2 separate regions of the Homo sapiens genome follow, and region 2 is linked to region 1. A link means that fine-mapping ties the variant in region 1 to the expression of a gene that starts in the linked region. Tissue or cell type: whole blood. Region 1 holds a variant in brackets; the other region holds the start of a gene. All regions are shown on one strand. Distances are between the middles of the regions.

Region 1 (5,753 bases):
CATATCCTCACCAGCATTTTGTTTTGTCACTATTCATTAAAAGGCGAATAGAATGGCCTTCAGAGTGTCCATCGCAGAGGGCCTTAGCAGAGCTTAGAATGATGGGACTGGCCTCTGCCCAGGGCCCCTCTGCACAGCATGACAAAGCGGTGATATCTACTTATGGCTTCCATTTTCAGTTCCCTGGCGGCTGATGATACGGAGCATGTTGTATGCCTATTTGCCATCTGCATATCCTCTGCAGTGACATGGCTCTTCATGGTTTTGGCCATTTTCTAATTGGATTTTTGTTTTTACTGTTATTATTTGAGAGTTTTTTAAAATATATTCTAGATATTCGTTTTATGGGATATGGGTGTTGCAGATACTTTCTCCCTGTTTGTAGCTTGTCTTTTCATGCCCTTCTTATGGGCTTTCACAGAGAAAAGACTTTGTGAGGTACAATTTACCAACATTTTAATGGGTAGTGCTTTGGGTGTCAAATCTAAGAACCCTTTGGTTAGTCCTAGATCCTGAAGACTTTTTCCTATATTTTTCTTTTTCTTTTTCTTTTCTTTCTTTTTTTTTTTTTTTTTTGAGATGGAGTCTTGCTCTGTCTCCCAGGCTGGAGTGGTGCAGTGGCATGATCTTGGCTCACTGCAAGCTCCGCCTCCTGGGTTCACGCCATTCTCCTGCCTCAGCCTCCCGAGTAGCTGGGACTACAGGCGCCCGCCACCACGCCTGGCTAATTTTTTGTATTTTTAGTAGAGACGGGGTTTCGCCGTGTTAGCCTGGATGGTCTTGACCTCCTGACCTCGTGATCCACCTGCCTCGGCCTCCCAAAGTGCTGGGATTACAGGCTTGAGCCACTGTGCCCGGCTGACTTTTTCCTATATTTTTCTTAAAGTTTTATAGTTTTACATTTTGCATTTAAGTCCCTGGTACATTTGAGTTAAATTGTGATTAAGGTTTGTGAAGTTTAGGTTAAGGTTCATTTTGTGTGTATGTGCCTGTGAATGTCCAGTTGCTCTTCTCTGAAGAGGCTATCTTTTCTGCGTTGAATTTCTTTTGCATTTTTGTGACAAATTAGGTGGGCATATTTGTGTGGTTCTTGTCATGGGTTCTCTACCTTGTTCCATTGGTCTGCACTCTGCTAATATCACACACCCTTGTTTACTATAGCTGTATAAGTTATTAAATCATATAAATTAATTCTTCCTACTTTGTTCTTTGATTGATTTTTCAAACATTGAACCAGCCTCATATCTCTGGAGTACATCAATTGTCCATCATATAATTTTTTCATCTATTATTGATGTATTAGTAATGTTTTATTAATGATTTCTGCATCAGTATTCAAGAAAGATGCTGTTTTACAGTTTTGTTGTACTGTCTTTTTCTGGTTTTGGTATCAGGATAATACTAGCTTCATAAAGTCCATTTGCAAGTGAAATAAGCTAGCCACAGGAAGATAAATACTGCATGCTCTCACTTATATGTGGAATCTAAAATAGTCAGACTCATAGAAGAGAGTAGAATGGTGGTTTCCAGGGCTGGAGGGAGGGAGAAGTGGGGGGATGGGGGGATGCTGGTCATGAGTGTAAATTTCCGGTTACTCAAGATGAGTAAGTTCTGGAGATGGAATGTACAGCATGGTGACTATAGTTAACACTATTGTATTTTATACCTGAAATTTGTTTAGAGGGTAGATCTTAAGTGTTCTCATCTTACACACACACACAAAGGTTAACTATGTGAGGCGATAAATATGTTAACTGACTTGACTATGGTGCTCATTGCACAATATATACATATATAAAAAATCAAGTTTTAAAATCGATACCTTTTTTTGAGACGCAGTCTCGCTCTGTCACCCAGGCTGGAGTGCAGTGGCGCGATCTCGGCTCACTGCAAGCTCTGCCTCCTGGGTTCACACTGTGACATGGGGCTGGAGAGTTGATCTAAACTGAGGGAGGACAGTGAAGGTGTCCCTGGCCAGCTGAAGGCAAACTGCTTCAGGTGGGCCTTCTGGACAGGGATGGAGAAAAAGGTGTGTGTCAGATCAATAGTTACATACCATGTACCAGGATATGTGTTAATTTGCTCAAGCAATGAAACAGCATCTGGTACAGCAACTGCAATTAGAGTTATCACTTGGTTAAGCTTCTGGGAATCCACCATCATTCTCCAGGATTCATCTGTCTTCTGCACAGGCCAGGAGAGTTGGACAAGGATGTGGGGTAGGAATCACCACCCCTCCATACTTCAAGTCTTTGATGATGGCACTCATCTATATCATTCCTCCAGGAAGGCAGTATTGGTGTGTTTTTTGTTTTAGTATTTTTCTAGGTAGAGATGGCTGTAACGCCTTCCATTTGTCCTTTCCCATCACAATTGCCCTCACTTTATAGCTCAGGGAACCCGTGTGGAAACTCTGCTAGCTGCTGAACACGTCTGTTCCAACTACACATCTGGACCCGGGAAATGACCAGAGAATGGGTTCCGGGACCCGCTGGGCCCACGGTGAGTTGGACCTGAGTTAAAGCTCCTGGTACCAAGATATGGAAAAACCTCTTTGACTGTCTTATTTCACTGGAAAACAGTATGGAGTTTACTCAAAAAAATTAAAAATAGAACTACCACATAATTCAACAGTGCCACTTCTGGGTATGT[A/G]TCCAGGATCTGGAAGAGAGATCTGCATCTCACGTTCATTGCAGCACTATTCACAGTAGCAAAGATACGGAAACAATCTAAGTGTCCACTGACAGGTGAATGGATAAAAAGAAAACTTGACACACATACACACACAGCGGAATATTATTCAGCCACTTTAAAAAAGAAGTCCTGCCTATCAACAACATAAATGAACCTAGAGGGCACTATACTCAGTGAAGTGTGACAGAGACAGACAAATACTGTATGGTATCACTTATATATGGAATCTAAAAAGAAGAAACATTTCCAACTCATAGAAGCAGAGAGCAGAGCAACCTGGTGGTTGCCGGGAAGGGAGGTGGGGGAGGAAATGGAGAGATCTTGATCAAAGTGTACAAACTTTCAGTTATAAGATGAAGGAATTCTAAAGATCTAATGTACAGCACGGTGAGCATAGTTAATAATACTATATTTTATACTGAAGCTTGCTAAGAGAGTAGATCTGAAGTGTTCTCACCGAAAAAGGGAGGGGGTAAGTGTGGGAAGTATTGGGTAAGTGCTGTGGTTTGGATATTTGCCTCCAAATCTCATAATGTGAAATGCAATCCCCAGTGTTGAAGGTAAGGGCTAGTAGGTGTTTGGGTCATGGGCGTGGATCCCTCATTAATGGCTTGGTGCTGTCCTTGAGGTCATGAGTGAGTTCTTACTCTATTAGTTACCAAGAGATCTGATTGTTTAAAAGGGCCTGGCATCTCTCTCTTGCCTCCTCTCTTGCCATGTGACATGCCTGCTCCCTTTTTGCCTTCCACCAACAGTAAAGCCTTCCTGAGGCCTCCCCGGACTCCCAGCAGTTACTGGTGCCGTGTTAGTGCAGGCTGCAGAACTGTGGGCCAAATAACCTGTTTTCTGTATAAATTACCCATCCTCAGGTATTCCTTTACAGCCATGCGAAACAGACTAATGCAGCATGCTAATTAACTTTATCATGGTAATAACTTTATTTTATTATTTATTTACTTAGAGTCTCATTTTGTCACCCACGCTGGAGTGCAGTGGCACCATCTCAGCTAACTGCAACTTCTGCCTCCCAGGTTCAAGCAATTCTCCCATCTCAGCTTCCTGAGTAGTAGCTGGGATTAAAGGCACATGCCACCACACCTGGCTAATTTTTTGTATTTTTTTGGAGAGATGGGGTTTCGCTGTGTTGCCCAGGCTGATCTCAAACTCCTGGCCTCAAGTAATCCTCCCGCTGTGGCCTCCCAAAGTGCCGGGATTACAGGTGTGAGCCACCAGGGCTGGCCAGGGTAATCATTTTAAAGTGTTAACATATGTGAAATCATCAGTTGTACACCTTAAATAGATACAATTTTCTGTCAATTATGCCTCAATAAATTGAAGAAAATAATTTTTTTCTGGATATATTTTCTGAAAACTAAAGTGATTTAAGTTACATAAACAGAAAATAGTATCAAACTGAAAATAGACCCAAATTTTAACAGTTTTTATTTTACTAGAAATAATACTCTTTAGTTTTTCATTTTGTTTTTATATGATCATATATTTCTTTCTTTTCTTTTTTTTTGAGACAAAGTCTCGCTCTGTCACCCAGGCTGGAGTGCAGTGGCGCGATCTCAGCTCACTGCAAGCTCCTCCCACGTTCACGCCATTCTCCTGCCTCAGTCTCCCGAGTAGCTGGGACTACAGGCGCCTGCCACCATGCCCGGCTAATTTTTTGTATTTTTAGTAGAGACGGGGCTTCACCATGTTAGCCAGGATGGTCTCTATCTCCTGACCTCATGATCTGCCCGCCTTGGCCTCCCAAAGTGCTGGGATTACAGGTGTGAGCCACCGTGCCCGTCCATAATCATATATTTCTATCAAAGTAGAGGGAAATCCGGCCAGGTGCGGTGGCTCATACCTGTAATCCAAGCACTTTGGAAGGGCGAGGCAGGAGGATTAACTTGAGCTCAGGAATTCAAGACCAGCCTGGGCAACATGGTGAAACCCCGTCTCTTCTAAAAAATAAAAAAATTTAGCCAGGCGTGGTGGCGGGCACCTGTAATCCCAGTTACTCTGGAGGCAGAGGCGGGAGAATCGCTTGAAACCGGGAGGCGGAGGTTGCAGTGAGCTGAGATCAGGCCACTGCACTCCAGCCTGGGTGACAGAGAGTGAGAGCTTGTCTCAAAAAAAAAAAAAAAAATGTTGAGGGAAATCAAATATACTCAAAACCTTCTCTTGTAGCAGAGTTCATGAGAGGAAAAAAAAGAAAAAGAAATTTTTTTTTGCACAGAGTCTTGCTCTATCACCCAGGCTGGAGTGCAGTGGGGCGATCTCGGCTCACTGCAAGCTCCTCCTCCTGGGTTCACGCCATGCTCCTGCCTCAGCCTCCCGAGTAGCTGGGACTACAGGCGCCCGCCACCACGCCCGGCTAATTTTTTTGTATTTTTAGTAGAGACGGGGTTTCACCGTGTTCGCCAGGATGGTCTCGATCTCCTGACCTCGTGATCTGCCTGCCTCGGCCTCCCAAAGTGCTGGGATTACAGGCATGAGCCACTGCGCCTGGCCCAGAAAATGAAAAATTTTAAAAATTATCCTAGAAATTGTCAAATAGCTGATTTCAGACCAATTATCTTGCTAAAGAAACGTAGAAAAGTCAGTCAAAACAGAAAACATATATTTTTGAAGGAATTAAGGAGCTCTTAAGGCAGCCAAGACGTTGATGGGGCTTCTTTTTTTTTTTTTTTTGAGATGGAGTTTCGAGCCCAGACTGTAGTGCAGTGGCGTGATCTCAGCTCACTGCAACCTCCCTCCGCCTCCCAGGTTCAAGCGATTCTCCTGCCTCAGCCTCCGGAGTAGCTGGGATTACAGGCATGCACCACCATGCCCGGCTAATTTTGTATTTTCAGTAGAGACGGGGTTTCACCGTGTTAGCCAGGATGGTCTCGATCTCCTGACCTCGTGATCTGCCCGCCTCGGCCTCCCAGAGTGCTGGGATTACAGGCGTGAGCCGCCGCGCCCGGTCACGTGATGGGGCTTCCATCACAGACAGGAGGGAAGCCCTGAGAAGCCAGCCTGGCCTTTGGAGTGACTTCTCCCCTGTGAATATTTGCCGCTTGGAA
Region 2 (5,753 bases), 62 kb after region 1:
AGCGGCACGATCTCAGCTCACTGCAGCCCCGCCTCCTGGGTTCAAGCGATTCTTCTGCCTCAGCCTCCTAAGTAGCTGGGGGTACAGGCACCCGCCACCATGCCCAGCTAATTTTTGTATTTTTAGTAGAGACGGGGTTTCACCATATTGGCCAGGCTGGTCTCGAACTCCTGACCTCATGATCCGCCTGCCTCGGTCTCCCAAAGTGCTGGGATTACAGGCGTGAGCCACCGTGCCCAGCCAAAAAAATTCTTAAACTAGTTCTTTTTGTTTTTGCTTTTGAGACAGGGTTTGGCTCTGTCACCCAGGCTGGAGTGCAGTTGCACGATCTTGGCTCACTGCAACCTCTGCCTCCTGGGCTCAAACCATCCTCCCACCTCAGCCTCCCGAGTAGCTGGGACCACAGCCATGCACCACCATGTCCAGCCAATTTTTTTTCTGTATTTTTTGTAGAGATGGGATTTCACCATGTTGGCCAGGCTAGTCTTGAAATCCCAGGCTCAAGTGATCCACCCACCTCTGCCTGCAACCTGAGATTACAGGCGTGAGCCACTGTGCCCAGCCTTTGACTAGCTGCTTGGACACATCAGTTAACTCAAAGGTTTTTTTGGACATACTGTTCTTGTGTAGAGATGAAACCACTGGATTAGGCAGTGTTTCTGGTATTGGTAGTAGATTCTCAGAAATTTAGATAAACCTTTTCATTAAGTCTTGCCAGGTAACTGACTTAATAGGAAGGGTTGAGGCTGCCACGAAAGGGTGGTAAGCTAACTGGTGCAGTGATGCTGGGATGAAATGTCTACCTTTAACTTACTCACTTTGACCTTAAACCAACTGAGCAAAATGGCCCAAAGCAGCTTATGTAAACAACCTACAAATATTTACTGGGTTCTAGGCCTGAGATACCAAAGACAATATAAATCAGGTCCTTGTCTCCAAACTCAGCACAAAGCCACAGAGAGTGACTAGGGGCACCATAGTGCTGCATCACATAGCATAGAGGTGCTAGTCATTCTCAGCTTCCTTCTGATCACTACACACTTTTAAACATTAGACCTTTTGGTGGCATACAAATTAAAACACTAAAGCGAGATGAATGTAATTACAAAGCAGACTCTACTATTGGGTAACAGTGTGTGTGACGTCTATAATATAAAGGCCTCTGTAGGTGGCATTTCAAGTGGCTGCTTTTTAACATAGTGTTGCTTTTTTGAGCAGAATTGTGGGCTGTCCTGACCACACTTTCTTATAACCCCAGGAGGCAGGATCTCTCCTACTCCATGAAACAGGAGAACATTCTTTGGTGCCAGCTTGAATTTACATTCTCATATGCTGCAATTTGAGCCCCACTCTACCTTGTATTATCGCCCAGACCAGTCAGCTCAACATTCTATCTAATAGATTCCCTTGAGACGGGATGTGTAATCAATTGTAGAACCAATACATTTCACTCTTTGGGCAAAATCTGTTAGCATACCAGGTGGCTCCAAATACTCCACTATTTGAGGACTTCACATCTAACTGGAGTAGTCAGGAGCCGGGAAATGGGTGGGAACTCATGTCAGAGACAGCATCTTAAAGAAATGGCCTTTCAAGGATGAGTAAGATTTAAATTTGTAGATGCAAAAATGGTGGCTATTCTAGATGAAAATAATATCATTTGTTTCATTCTGTAGCATAAAGAGTTTACCCTTCCAGTTTTCCAAGTTTCTTTTCAACTTCGCTTCTTGGAGTGCAATCTCCATGAAAATTCAACTTACTTTTTGAAATGCTGTACAATCTCCGAGATTTATCTAAATTTACCCTACTTACCCAAACCAGATGGCACAAGTTTCTATCATGTTAGATCACTAAAGGTATTTCCGTTCCCTCCTTTCACCTAACAGGATAACAGGTCTCCCACATGCTACTGGGCTAATACCCGCAAGAGTTCAACCCTACCCTCCCAAATTTGATTTCTAGCTTTCCCTTTTATCCAGCGAATCCCCGTCAGAATACAGAAGCCAACCCCCACCCCGCCCGCCGTCCCCCCCCACGATCTTCAGTCTCACCTAAACCCTTTCCCTCACTTACGCCCTTCCTTGCTTTGACACCCTATTCTTGGTTCTCCTCCTCTGCTGATCATTCCTTCTCAGGCCCCTTTCCCTCTGGCCCTTGAGTGTTCCCCACAGGGCTCCGACTTTGACCCTAATATTTCTCATGTTACATACTTACACGGGGGAACTGCCTGAGGGTCCTCAGAACTGCAGAATACCTTATTTGAGGTAAGCAAGCCCCATAACGGACTATCACTAGCTCAGAGACATTTTTCAGCCTTGAATAAAATCAGCCCGCAGGGACAAAAAAAAATGGGGAAAACTTCGTTAGGGAAACTTCCAGCGACCTTAACTGCTCAGGAGGTAGGGATCCTAACAGGAAAACCTTGTCAGGAGTCTCCATTGAAACCTCCGGGTTTTTGTTTTGTTCTGAATAGGAGCACGTGCCTTGAAAAGATTAGCACCCCTTGAGCTTGTTTTCTGAGACAGCCTCTTTGTCCGAATCCACCTTAGACTGGAAGCGCCAAGTGGGCAGGACAAGCACCCAGTCCAGGGAACAGCCCAGGGACCAGCCAAGGCCCGCCCTAGGCGGTTTTGGGGCCGTTGTCGGGTGCCGGCTGCGGGAGTTGAGGTCCCGGGGGAGGGGGCAGACACGCGGTACACACTGAGGGCGGGACACGGGCGTTCCTTCCCGGTTCCACCCGAGCCCGTAGAGAACGTAAACACCCTCCCGGCCTAGAGGCCCCGGGACCGGGTGGGCGGGGGGGGGGGGGTGGAAATGCTTGGGCCGCGCAGCCGCAGTGTGGAGGCTCGAGCCCCGCTCTTACGTCACGTGGAGCCCCGCCCTTAGGTGGAGCGGCGGGAGCGCGCAAGGTTCTGTCACGCAGGCGCGTTCGCGCGGCGTAGGTGGTGCTAGAGGCGACTCGGGGGATTCTAGGGCGACGGCGCTGCCGCCATTTTGTGGGGTGTTTGTCGCAGCGGCCGAGGAGGGAAGACGGCAGTTTGGCGACATTTCTCGGCCGAAGGGCCATTTGCTTTTGCGGAGGTAGGGTTGCAGATGGTGTGTGCTGGGACAGGCGGCTGTCGGTCTTTAGGTCTCCGAGCCAGGTGTCGGAGAAACGACCGCGTTAGGGGCCTGGGCTTCTGGAGCTGAGTTGGGAGTTCTGCGAGGCGCTGCTCGGCTGGTGCACGCCGGCAGCACCGAAAGTTGCTCGGGCGTCGCGGTTCTGCCGCTGACCCTTCTCTGAGGGCCCTGGCCGCTCGCGTCGCGGCTCCGGAGGCCGTGGGCTCGCGGTCCCCTGCTGCCTGGCGAGCGCGGCTGTTGGTTAACCCTGTCGGGACCTCTTCCAGCCGGCGGGCGCTAGGACCTGTCGGGAGACCCTTCGAGAGCCGTCTCTGGCATTCGTGTTGTCGGAGATCAAGTCTTCCCCTGGATTCCTGGCCTGGGCCGTTTGTAGCGTTTCGGGGGTTTTCCAGAGTCAAGCATTTGCCCCTGTCTTGAGTGCGCCAAAGGCACTGGCCGGGTGCCCAGGAGCCGGGAGGTGGGGACCGGGCGTCCGTGCAAATCCAGGTGGTTGAGGGCAGTAGCTGCTTGTGAGAGGTGGAAATTTGCGGAGGCTAGTCCTCTGTGCTATGCTGAACACAACATTGTTGCAGCGAACCTGCGTTTCTGGTGGTTTTGCATCTTATTATCCCTGGTTGCCTAAATAGTCCAGATAGGCTTATCCGATCCTTAGGAAACCGCCCCGCAAACTGAACTCGCCAGCCACTTTGTCTTGCCTCATAGCTGTCCTGTGCGATTGTGCTTTTTACACACCCCTACAGGCTTGTAACCCATTAAATGCAGTCCTCTTGGAGCCATCCAATCCTAAACTTATAACCTGTTTCGATGTTTTTAAGCCATGTACGTAGCGTAAAGTTGTCAAGAACTACAGGATCTTAAGGGCAGTGGCGATGGATCTACATATGAGATCCATTGTGTCATTATTTTTTGAAAGATACCTACTCTAGCATGTGGGATGCTTTATTAGAGGCAGTGTCATGATTCTAGATAGCTTTTCTTTTTTATGTATGCGAAGGAACCTTACCACGTAGAACGTGGGTCGGGTGATCTTTGTGCCTCCAGATAAAATATTTTTGAACATTGCAGGGTGAGTGGGGGAGGTCAGAGGCTGGGACTAACAGCTGAATTACATTTGAAGTAGTGAACTTGAGAAGAATTTTGGACTCTCACAACGGAGCTCGTTCTTATTTTAATGTTTGCATATTAACTGATAATTTGAGAGTTCTGTTTTGCTGGAGGTTAGCTGGTTGTAAGCAGACTTACAGTAGAAGAGGAAAAAACAAAACTGAAGAAGATACATAAGTCTTGAAAAAAACTTCATAGTAATGGAGGGTCATAATAATAACGCTCGGTCATCAGATGTGATTTTGCTTGCTATGATTTAAAAATGCTTAACCAAGCTGAGTTCCTGATGTGGTTAAAATACAACTTTGGTATTTGACGGAACGCTTCAGAAGAACTGCACTTGAAATACACATTTTCTTTTTTTTTTTTTTTTTTTTTTTGAGACAGGGTCTCACTGTCGCCCATACTGGTATGCAATGGCGTGATCATGGCTCACTGCAGCCTTGACTTCCTTGGGCTCCAGTGATTGTCCCAGTAGGTGGGACTACAGGCTCGAGTCACCATGTGCGGCTAATTTTTTGTATTTTTTGTAAAGGCAGGGTTTCGCCGTGTTGCCCAGGCCAGTCTCGAATTCCTGGGCTCAAGGGATGAGGCGCCACTGCGTCCAGCCATAAATTTTTCTTGATAGCTCTAATGAAGAAAGTTTGTGTTTTGGCCTTTTGCCTCAAGTAAATGTGTGCTGTTATTCATGTCACGTTCCCATATGGAAGTGACTCCATTTGTATCAAACCGGAATGCTCACTTCCATTGAGACGCTAACAAGAGTTTTAGAATTGCTGTTTGGCCTGATCAGTGCCTTCTCTTCCTCTGTAAAGTGAGCTGAGAGCCACCTTAGAAGGATGCTTGATGGGTATAGAATTAGAATCAGCAAGAGAGTGAATTAAAATATCTGACTATCTGGTGGCAATCAGACTCTGATGGCGTGACACATACTTTCTTGTGGAATACCTCCCAGAAGAATTGAAGCTGCCTCACTCCAAAACCTTTAATCCATTTAAAATCATTTAAATTTCTGCTTGCATTTGTTTGCTTATTAGTCATTTGGGCAAGCTGAATGAGGTTAACTGAGTGGGTTTTACTCCATTTTAGCTTTTTTCAGCTCCTTGCTGAATTGTGAAATTCTTCTCTTTTTACCATTTAAACTCACCCTGTTTAGGAGAATTTGGACCTGACTGTTAAAACTTAACTGTTTTGGAAAATAATTAAGATGGGGAGAGACAGATAGGGGTTATATTGTTTGAGCGCAGATGCTGAGCCTGGAAGGAACCCAGGTTATGCACTGGAGTTTGTAAATAAAGTCAGCTGTCACCGTTATCGTTTGCTTTCACTGTGACCATGCTTCAGTGTGCATCCTTGTAGGTTGAGTTCTTTTTCAGAGTTACTCCAGATTTACTACAAATAGATTTTAAGGTTAAGAATAACTGCTGGATAAGAAAATGAACTTGTTGGATAGAGAAAATGAGTTCATAAAATCACATAAACATTTAAAAAAATTTTTTTTGTAGAGACAGTTTCACTATGTGTAGCGC

What was found. PIP is the estimated chance that this variant, and not a neighbour inherited with it, causes the effect.
Region 2: it holds the start of CLK4, and the variant in region 1 is fine-mapped to the expression of CLK4 in whole blood (TOPMed, PIP 0.99).

What each region holds. Positions count from the first base shown.
Region 1 is chr5:178,686,242-178,691,994 of GRCh38, reverse strand. It overlaps a transcript of MSANTD5 not described here. Among named protein-coding and RNA genes, the nearest start is that of MSANTD5, 8.6 kb to the left of the region's middle. The variant A/G (reference allele first, on the strand shown) is at 2,653.
Region 2 is chr5:178,624,274-178,630,026 of GRCh38, reverse strand. It overlaps CLK4 (CDC like kinase 4), which reads left to right and starts at 2,977. Exons shown (of 13, transcript NM_020666.3): 1 at 2,977-3,081. RefSeq lists enhancers at 3,009-3,618, 3,351-4,031.